Regions from separate parts of the Homo sapiens genome. Here region 2 is linked to region 1. The links come from fine-mapping of genetic effects on gene expression. Tissue or cell type: whole blood. Region 1 holds a variant in brackets; the other region holds the start of a gene. All regions are shown on one strand. Distances are between the middles of the regions.

What was found. PIP is the estimated chance that this variant, and not a neighbour inherited with it, causes the effect.
Region 2: FAM219B starts here. The variant in region 1 is fine-mapped to the expression of FAM219B in whole blood (TOPMed, PIP above 0.99).

The regions. Positions count from the first base shown.
Region 1 is chr15:74,814,885-74,820,141 of GRCh38, reverse strand. It overlaps LMAN1L (lectin, mannose binding 1 like), which reads right to left. Exons shown (of 14, transcript NM_021819.3): 2 at 3,831-3,985; 3 at 3,608-3,715; 4 at 3,452-3,510; 5 at 1,325-1,424; 6 at 870-990; 7 at 43-98. Among named protein-coding and RNA genes, the nearest start is that of LMAN1L, 4.7 kb to the right of the region's middle. RefSeq lists an enhancer at 1-286. The variant A/G (reference allele first, on the strand shown) is at 3,233.
Region 2 is chr15:74,904,686-74,909,685 of GRCh38, reverse strand. It overlaps FAM219B (family with sequence similarity 219 member B), which reads left to right and starts at 2,835. Exons shown (of 5, transcript NM_020447.5): 1 at 2,835-3,099; 2 at 3,321-3,408; 3 at 4,455-4,532; 4 at 4,974-5,000. The coding sequence starts at 2,886. RefSeq lists enhancers at 2,493-2,772, 2,614-3,418, 3,419-4,225 and a silencer at 2,833-3,132.

The DNA of each region.
Region 1 (5,257 bases):
TCCCTGGGCTGCCATTCCCAGGTAGGCCAGGGCTGGCATCACCTCTGGGCTGGGCTCACTCAGGCTGAAGGTCAGGAAGGACAGGACATCATGATCATCTGGAAGGGGACAGATGAAGGAGAAGTAAGACCCCTCCACCCAGCAACCCCCTCGCTCAGCCTTCACCCTAACCGCCATGATATCCCACCGAGGCAAGAGGGGTGACTTTGGGCCACCGTCTGATGCTTGTCTTGCTTACTTCCTAGGAAAGGTGTGAGGGTTGACAGGTAGACGGGTGGGTGGTGAGGGTTGAACCTCACACTCAGTCAGAGGCAGGCCCCTGTGGCAGAACTGGACGATCCCAAAACATCCTGGGCTAGAGCCATGGCAGCAGACCATCTGACACTCTTAGGCCCCCAGAGCACAGCTGCTACTGGTAGTAGCAACTGCACAGTGGCCACCTTTCCAGCATAGCTCTGACCATGTCACTCTCCTCCTCAGAAACCAGACCAAGGTCCTGGCATTCAAGGACTCCCACGCTCTGGTTGCCCTCAGCTTTCCCGCTGTGGGACCCTCCGTGGACTCTCCATGGTGTCACATTTCTTTGCTCCATTTTCCTAAATGCCCCTCTTTGCTGTCTGTCTTCCACTTGTCCCGCAACTCACAGCTAGGGGCACTTATGTGGCCAGCACTGAAATCAAAGCTTCTCTTGTTTTATCCCATTTGAGACTTGCAAGTCTCAAGGCAGACATGACTTCTCCCAAGGGTCACAGAAGCCCAGGTCATGTGGTGAAGTGGCTGACGCCACCCCAGTGCTCTTTAGAAGGTGTGCTGAGGGTGATTTATTCATCACTGCCCTTCTGCTCTTACCTGTCCAGTGGGATCCTCACCTGCCAGGGTGCCGGTGGCTGCTGAGACCCCAAAGAAACCTCCAGGGACCAAAAGCAGGGGCCCCACATCCACACAGAACTCACCTGGATCACTGGGAGTGAGGCCACTGTTCAAGGACATCTGAGGGACATGGAGAGAGTGAGCAGTGGGGGGGTGTCCCTACCTCTGACTCCCTGGCTCCCCTGGCCGTGGGATGGCAGGTGGCCCTAGGGCTTGGTATCAGAATGGCATGGAGGTGACCCGCACTCCTGGTCTCATGTGAGCCCTTACATGTATGTGCTCTGGGTGAGTGTTAGGATTCTGTGTAGGGATGGAGGATCCCCTGTGGATGTTGGCCCGTGTGTGCCAGGGACCTCACGTGGTGTCACAGGCACTGGTGTGTTGGGGCCGTGGGCACGCACACATAGCAGCTCTGTAACTCAGAGCCCTGTCAGAAGCAGGAAGGGTGACTCACGCGCAGCCTCTGCCCCCAGTAGGTGATCCGTGCTCTGAAGGGGTGTGGCCGGTTCCGGAAGTCCCAATGACAGGAGCCCAGCCCTTGGCTAGCTCCATCCCTGTGGGCAGTTTGTTCATTTGTTTGTTTTTGAGAAAGAGTCGCTGCCCAGGCTGGAGTGCAGTGGTGCAGTTGTGGCTCATTGCAACTTCTGCCTGCTGGGCTCAAGTGATCCTCCCACCTCAGCCTCCCAAGTAGCTGAGACTACAGGCATGCACCACCATGCCCGGCTAATTTTTGTATTTTTAGCAGAGATGGGGTTTCACATTGTTGGTCAGGCTGGTCTCAAACTCCTGACCTCAAGTGATCCACCTGTCTTGGCTGCCAAAGTGCTGGGATTACAGGTGTGAGCCACCATGCCTGACTCTTGTGGGCAGTTGGAATCCAGCCAGGATATACAGGACTCAAGGCCTGGACAGTGAGGGCAGTCCCAGAAGCCACTCTGCCCAGATTTGCTGTGCCACCTCCCTTTCCGCTGGGCGAGCTGGCATGGGACATGTACCTTGTCTAGCTTGAGTCTCCCTTGTTGTACCCTGCTCCCTTGGCAGAAGAGAGAGGAGCAGGGGAAGCAAGCCCTGCCTGACGGAGTGTTGGGACTTGGATTTACAGAAGGGGCCAGGGGCCTCCCTGTGGCCCTTCCTTAAGGGGACAAAGGCCTGGACCAACAATACAGTTTCTGCCCTCCATTCCCCCGACCCACCTATCACCCTCGTCCTATCACCCTTACGTCCCTCCTTCTTCTCTCTCTCTTTTTTTTTTTTTTTCTGAGACGGAGTCTTGCTCTGTTGCCCTGGCTGGAGTGCAGTGGCGCGATCTCGGCTCACTGCAACCTTTGCCTCCTGGGTTCAAGCGGTTCTCCTGCCTCAGCCTCCCGAGTAGCTGGGATTACAGGTGCTCGCCACCACACCCGGCTAATTTTTTTAATTTTTAGTAGAGACAGGGTTTCACCATGTTGGCCAGGCTGGTCTCAAACTCCTGACCTCAGGTGATTAGCCCGCCTCAGCCTCCCAAAATGCTGGGATTACAGGCGTGAGCCACTGTGCCTGGCCTCTCCCTCCTCCTTCTTTTAAACTCCAAGTCCTCTGTGCCTCTGGCTTCCTTTTCCTCTCCCAGCTGCCAGGGCTCAGAATGCAGCTGACTCAGGACGGATGACCTGGACATGTCCCGGCAGCCAAGGACAATGTGACCAGGCTGCCTCCCTGACAGGTCGGCTCGGCAGGCTCTGGGGAGTCAGGAGAAGAGTGTTAAACGCTGAGTGTCTCTGGACACCTCAGGCTACTCACAGCAGAGCGTCTGACAGTGCCGCCTTCCGCCAAGAGGGAGGCAGCACAGGGCAGGGGAGAAGCCAGCACCACAGCAGCCACCTGGGTTTGTGCCCCGAGCTATGTGACCTTGGGCAAGCCATCTCATCTCTCCAAACCCCAGTGTTCCCATCTCTAAAACGAGGATGGTAATTGGAACGACCTCATAACAATGTTATGAGGGTTAACTAAGACAGTAAATGAGAAGGGCTTGGTGCTGTGCCTGGCATACAATCAGCTCACTCCATAAATGCAGGCAATTACTCTAATTGTTATGAGCCGAGAGAAGGTTGCTGAGAGACACTGACAAACCGGCCCAGCTACTGAGGAGGCAGTAGGGCCGGGGAGGGACAGAAGCCAAATCATCAGGGGAAAGGGAAGGGACAGCTATGCAGGGAAGGGCGAGGACCCTCCAGGGGTAAGTCTGGGCTCAAAGTTCAGCACTGCGCACGGCACATCCCTTCCCCTCTCTGGGCTCAATGTCCTGACCTGTAAATGGGACGAATAACCCCCCACTTATGGAGGGTGTTGGAGATGGGATGAGATCATGGGAGCAAAGATACTCATC[A/G]CAGGCCCCAGCCTGTGTCATTTCACCTGGGGCTGCTGGGTCGAAGGAATCAAGCCCCAGGGGGGCGGACGTCGGCTAAGTGAGAGAGTCCAGCAAGTATGGCGGCCCGGCAGGGTGGGCCCCCTGCTGGAGGAGGCTGGGGCAGGGGCTCGGATGGGGGGGATGGGCCCCTCCCAGTGCAAAAATGGAGGTGAGTGGTCAGTCCAGACAGGCCCTTACCCAGGCTGCTCAGAGGGGATGTGCCCGTCGCTGGCCAGCACACGGATGGCAGGACTGTCCTGCAGGGAGGTGAGAAGCAGCCTGAGCCGCGGACATGGCGGGAGGGGGAGGGTGTGAGCGGGCAGGCGGGCTGGCAGGCAGGAGACCACTACGCACCTGAGTATCCTCTGCCGGAGAGTCAAAGAAGATCCCGATGCCGTCCCACGAAGCCAGCCCCCCAAGGACAGAGCCTACATGGCCCCTGCCCCGGGTGTACCACACGGCCTGCAGGTCCCCAGCCCCTCAGCTCAGGGAACCGTGTGGGATACTGGGACCCCGGGGCTCATCACCCGCCTCCCTGACCCACCCCGCTCTGTCAGCTCTGGGAGAGGACACTCACCATGCCCTGGGCTCCCCGGCGCCCCAGTCCCGTCACCCTCATCTGCACCTCTACTTCCCAGGCAGAGAAGGGGACAGAGGCCCTGCTCCACACGGCGCCACTCCGGTTCCTCATGGATGGCGTCAGCCGCACTTCCTCCAGGCCCAGGATGGCGTCTGTGGACAAGGGCAGCTCAAGCCCCAGGCTCCACTACACCCCATCTCCCCCTTCACTCTCTCACTTGGCCCGGGCTGGGCTCCCGGAAGAGAAGGCGACAATGCCAAGGCCTACCATTAAATAAGCGGCCAGCCAGGGAAGCAGGAGTCAGAGCCCAGCACAGCTGGAGGGGCCTTTGCTGGGGAGGGCAATGAATGCCAGCACCATCCACGTCGTCAGTGAAGCCTCACCGCAGTGTGTGCTGTCTGTTTTTATAAGACCCCATCTAACAGATGAGGAAGGTGAGGCTCATAAAAGTTAAGGAACTAAGTGGATTGGATGGAATTCAGCTCCATATGACTCCAAAGCACAAGCTTTTTCCACCACGAGAGAGATTTGTGTCTAACCCTTCCCATTTCTCAGATGACGAAACTGAGGCCTTGTGACAAAAAAGGAAGTGCCTGAGACCACAGAACACAGGAGAGCACTTTAGGAGGGAGTAACTGCAAGAAGGCCCAAGACTCTAGGCTGTGGCCAAATGAGGCCAGAGCTTCCTGGTGGACAGGACCTAGGGGGCATTCCAAGGTGAGGAAAGCAGGAAAGCAAAGATGTGAAGGTGAGAACCGGCCCACAGGACTGCGATGAAAGAATGCAGGATGGAGTATGTGTGTGAGAATTGCCACTGGCGGTGGTGGGGCGGGGAGGAAGGAGCCCTGCATGGTAGGAAAAAGGAATGGGAGAGAAACTGAGGCAGTCTTGGCAGGAACTGGGGGCAGGGAACTCAGAGGCCCTACTCGAGCTCGCTCCCCACCCTCCAACCTGCCAGCCTGGAACCTGGCCCAGGGCCCAGACTCTGCCAGGACGTTCTGGAGGCAGCTAATCCAGCCTGTTTGCTCTATAAAGGCCAGGGATGGGGGTAGGGAGGCTCAGAGCTGCAAGGCCACAAGTCCCAGGGCCTCTGGAAGCTGTCACTGCCTCTGAAATCCTTGCAGAAGGCTTTCAGCCTTACAAGGCCTGTGGGTGAGACCTTGCCCCAGACCATGGGCTCCTTCAGCCTCACTCTGCCTGGTATCTCTGGGCTGGGCACAGAGGAACATCAGGGTGAACGAATGAATGAACAGACAATGCACACATCACTGGGTGATCTTGGAGAAGGTGCCTCTGCTCCCTCACATGATCTGTGACACCCAGATTTGGCAAGGCCCATAGCAGTGAGTGTTGTATAAGTTTTGCCATCCTGGTCCTGAAGCAGGGCCCAGCTTGGTGCTGTGAGAAACAGCCCACCTTTTTGT
Region 2 (5,000 bases), 90 kb before region 1:
CTCACACCTGTAATCCCAGCACTTTGGGAGGCCGAGGAGGGCGGATCACGAGGTCAGGAGATTGAGACCATCCTGGCTAATATGGTGAGACCCCGTCTCTACTAAAAATACAAAAAAAAATTAGCCAGGTGTGGTGGCGGGCGCATGTAGTCCCAGCTACTCAGGAGGCTGAAGCAGGAGAACGGTGTGAACCTGGGAGGTAGGGCATGCAGTGAGCCAAGATCGCGCCACTGCACTCCAGCCTGGGCGACAGAGCAAGACTCTGTCTCAAAAAAAAAAAAAAAAAAAAAGATCTCTTCCAGCCCCAAAGTTCTATGATACTAGTTAACTAAAAGAGGGGAAATAGGATATTAATTCAACAAATACTTATTACTATAACCTTATGCTAAAAAGTGAATAAGGTCTGCCCTTGGGGAGTGTAAAGTCAAATGAGAGAATAAACACTAAATCCTTGTAATGCTGTATAAGGGTTGTGTAAATAATAGCATATATTTCTTGAACACTTACTATTTGCCAGGTGTCATTCTAAACACTTTACAACTGAACTTCACAATTCCACTTCCATTAGATGGGTTTTCTTATCTCCACTTAGCTAAAGAAACTGAGACATAAAGAGGTTTAATAATTTGCCAGTAGGTAACAGAGCAAATAATTTGGCTTCAGGGTCTATGTTCAATCAGTCAGCAGTTAACAGCATTATTGATGGAAGATTGGGAGGAGTGTGCATGAAGGCTGTCACACTTTTGCTACAAGTTCCTAGTGATCTTGTGACATTAAGTGGGTTTAGGTCGGGGTTCCCAAGCCCCAGGCCATGGATGGATACTGGTCCATGAGTGAGCAAAGCTTCATCTGTATTTACAGTGGCTCCCCATTGCTCACATTACCACCTGAGCTCCGTCCGCCTCCTGTCAGATAAGCCGTGGCATTAGAGTCATATAGCAGCATGAACCCTATTGTGAACCACACATGCAAGGGATCTAGGTTGTGGGCTCCTTATGAGAATCTAATGCCTGATGATCTGTCATTGTCTCCCATCACACCCAGATGGGACCGTCTAGTTGCAGGAAAACAAGCTTGGGGCTCCTACTGATTCTAAGTTGAGTTGTATAATTATTTCATTATATATTGTAATGTAATAATAAAGTGCACAATAAATGTGCTTGAATCATCCCAAAACCAGCCCCCGCATTTCCACCCCGTGGAAAAACTGTCTTCCACAAAACCAACCCCTAGTGCCAAAAAGGCTGGAGACTGCTGGTTTAAATCACATTTTCTTTGGCCCTTGGTGATGTCCACATCAGCATAACCAGGAGAAAACCACTTCGTTGTTTTTTTGTTGGTTTTTTTTTTTTTTTTTTTTGGCTGGGGGGTGGTTGGTTGGTTGTTTTTGAGACAGCGTCTTGCTCTGTTGCCTAGGCTGGAGTGCAGTGGCCTGATCTCGGCTCACTGCAACCTCCGCCTCCTGGGTTCAAGCGATTCTCCTGCCTCAGCCCCTGAATAGCTAGGATTATAGGCACCCGCCACCACGCCCGGCTAATTTTGTATTTTCAGTAGAGATGGGGTTTCACCATGTTGGCCAAGCTGGTCTTGAACTCCCTACCTCGGGTGATCCGCCTGCCTCAGCCTCCCAAAGTGCTGGGATTACAGATGTGAGCCACTGTGCCCGGCCAGAAAACTACTTCTTTGGAGTCCACAGGCAACTGGGTACAAATTCCAGGTTTATCACTTAACTGGTAAACTTGACCAAGTCTAAGCTTCATTTGTTTAACAAGAATAACTATTGGCTTCATTGGGAGGTTATAACCATTAAATACTAAGTTGAGCTATATGAACCTGCTGTTTCTGGAGGCAAAAACAGTCTAACATCATGGGGAGTGGGGGGAATCTACCAAAATGGTAAGGATTCCTTTGTGCTTTTGATTTTTGAAAACTTCAGCCCTAAATTCTTCCTTTTCACCTCTCTTGCCCAAGGCATAGTGCCACCCAACGGTCTGCGTGGCCCTGGGAGCTCGGAGGTTGCACACTGTTGACCTACCCTATTGAAGCCAGTAAGTTAGTCAAGGGACAGCCTCATGAGATTTGGGAGTTCTACAAGGATCTGGAGTTTCTTTCCAGCCAGTCACAAGCACATCCCTTGGGGGCTAGAGAAGTCAAGAGCCCTGACACATAGCCTACCACACACAGACTCAGAGTGCACTTTCACCCTCCTTTTCAACGCCTATTTGCCTCACTGTACAATGAGTAGTGACATTGGCTCTATTTTTAAATGTGGAAACTGAGGCCTAGAGAGGGTCAGGTCCTGTCCAATGTCACAGGCACCAATTGGTGTTGGAAAGAAGGTGGGGTTTGGCGTCAGATGGATCAGCGCAAGCACTGCCTCTAGATGTGTCACCTTCACAAGGTTCTTTAACTTCTGGGGCCTGTTTCTTTTGCTAGAAAAGGTCGCTGATAACGCTTGTCCTCATATGACTCTTCAACCCAAGTCTGCTCTCTGGCAGCCCCACATGTGGGGAGACCCCCAAGGAGACACTGCGAGAAGCACAGAGTGCGGCGCGCCAGGACTCAAACCGTGGGCACCCGACCGACGCACACGCGCAGCCCCACGACAGTATCAGTATTTAATTTCCACTAGAGACAGAACTAAGCCTAACCATCACCAGGCTCAAGCCGCCTACCCCAAAACCGAGAACGGAACTGCCCGGTCCCCCCGAAAAGAAGGGCGGAACATTTCGGCCAAGTCCTCAGACTACCGAACCGGAGAGCTCCGAAAGGGGACTACCTGCGCCTGCGCACCGCCATCTTGTTAAAAGAGCCCGCCTCTCCCTCGGCCGGTCACTCTTTCGCCACGGGCGGGGTTGCACCATCCGGCAGGGCGGGGCCCGGCCATGGCGACCGCGGAGCCCAGCGGGCGCGCGTTGCGGTTGTCTACCCCGGGACCCCGGCCCAGCGGGGCTCGGGACCGCGCGCCGGGAGCTGCGGGGCCACCCTCCGGGCAGATCGGTAATAGAGCCCTCCGTCTGGGGGAGCGCACCCCCGCGGCCGTGGAAAAGCGGGGGCCATACATGGTGACGCGCGCACCCTCCATTCAAGCCAAGCTGCGTGAGTGTGGCCCGATGGTCGGGGGAGGTTTCTCCCTGGGCGGGCGGCCGCGTCCCCAGGGCGGGTTCCGGAGCTCCGCTGGGCCTCGGCCCCGGAGGGAAGGGGTTAGCTGCAGCCTGCTCTCGCCCCTCAAAATCCGTTCGGAAAGAGCGGCCTCCCAGCCTTCGGGAGACGCGGCGGAGTGGGGAAGACCCGGCTGACCCGGGTCCTTTAACTTCCAGAGAAGCACCGGGACCTGGCCAAGGCCGTTCTGCGGAGAAAAGGCATGCTGGGGGCCTCGCCGAACCGCCCAGACTCTTCAGGGAAAAGGTCTCAGCAGGCGCCACCTCCTCTGTGCCAGCAGCTTTAGAGAAGGCTTTAATCCCCAGGACGGAGGCAGGGTGCTCTGGTTTAAGGCCGAGCTAGCGATTCCCCTGATGCAACCTGTCAGGTTCACTATCTTTAAAATGGGAAGAGGAACAATCTCTCTTTTCCTTTAAGGATGTGATAGGATCAGATAAAGGGCTTCGGAATAAGGGAGTTCTGTGAGTGCACAGGCTCATTCACTATCATTCTCCTCCTCTGTTAGGGAGGAGAATGGTGGCTGGAGTCCCCAGCAATGAGGACGAAGAGCAGTGTGGGAATGGCTAGACCTGTTTTTGTTTGTTTGTTTTTAACAGAATAGTAAACTCGGAGCTGCATAGAACCTTATTCAGTGCCTCCTTTTACAGATGAGGGTTGAAACTCGGAGAAGTGAAGGTTAACCCTAACCTTTTACCCAAAGACTTGCAGTTTTTGTGTCCTCTGATTAAATAAGTGGGGAGAGGGTGCTTTTCCTAGATCAGGCAAGGGGAGGTGTGCTTTTTTCCAAGACCTATGGGAGGAGTAGAATACAGGCCGGGCGTGGTGGCTCACGACTGTAATTCCAGCACTTTGGGAAGCCGAGGCGGGTGGATCACTTGAAGTCAGGAGTTCGAGACCAGCCTGGCCAACATGGTGAAAGCCCGTCTCTATTAAAAATACAAAATTAGCTGGGCACGCCTGTAGTCCCAGCTACTCAAGAGGCTGAGGCAGGAAAATCACTTGAGCATGGTAGGCGGAGATTGCAGTGAGCCGAGATCGCGCCACTGCACTGCAGCCTGGGTGACAGGGCCAGACTCTGTCTCCAAAAAAAGAAAAAAAGAATGAGAACATACACATTCTGAGGCACTGTAGCCAGGTACATGGAGCTGCAGGCAGTGGTGGCTGTGACCAGGGAGAAGGCAAGTCAGTAGTGCAGTCAATTCTTTCTCCTTCAGGGCGAGGACTCTGCCTATCCCTGTGAAATGCCTATGCTTTCATCTATGTTTGGTCTCTTCTCCCCCGTCTCCCCTCAGGTCAGTGAAGTTTAACAAGGGCTATACTGCTCTTAGCCAGAGTCCAGATGAAAACCTGGTGTCCCTCGACTCTGACAGGTGAGTGCTCCCCTTGGAAATACCCCCTTGGGAAGCAACTTGGCTGGGACTGAAGATCGCCTGATGCCTTTGCTTGTTCCCTGTCTCCTCCAAGGCCCTTCATGTACATTCCAGGGCCGTTCTCTTCTGAACAATATCCCTTCCCAGGATGGCTTGGTTAGAAGACTCATAGGTAATCGTGCTGCTCTAGAATTCGGAGCACCAATGTCCGGGGGATCATCCTGCCCTGTTATGTTTGCATTGTTAGTGAGAGTGACCCTGTCCCTGCCAGAACCAATTGAGGGAACCAGTATTATTCAAGGCCTGTTCGGACTTGAGTTCTGTTGTGTGTGGCCTTTGCTTCAAAAGTCTTCCAGATGCCCTTGCATGCTCTCCGCCTGATGATTTACAGCTGTGCACCACAGGTACCTCCCGGAACTGACTGTTTTCCTCTTCTCCTAGTGATGGGGAGCTGGGATCCAGATACTC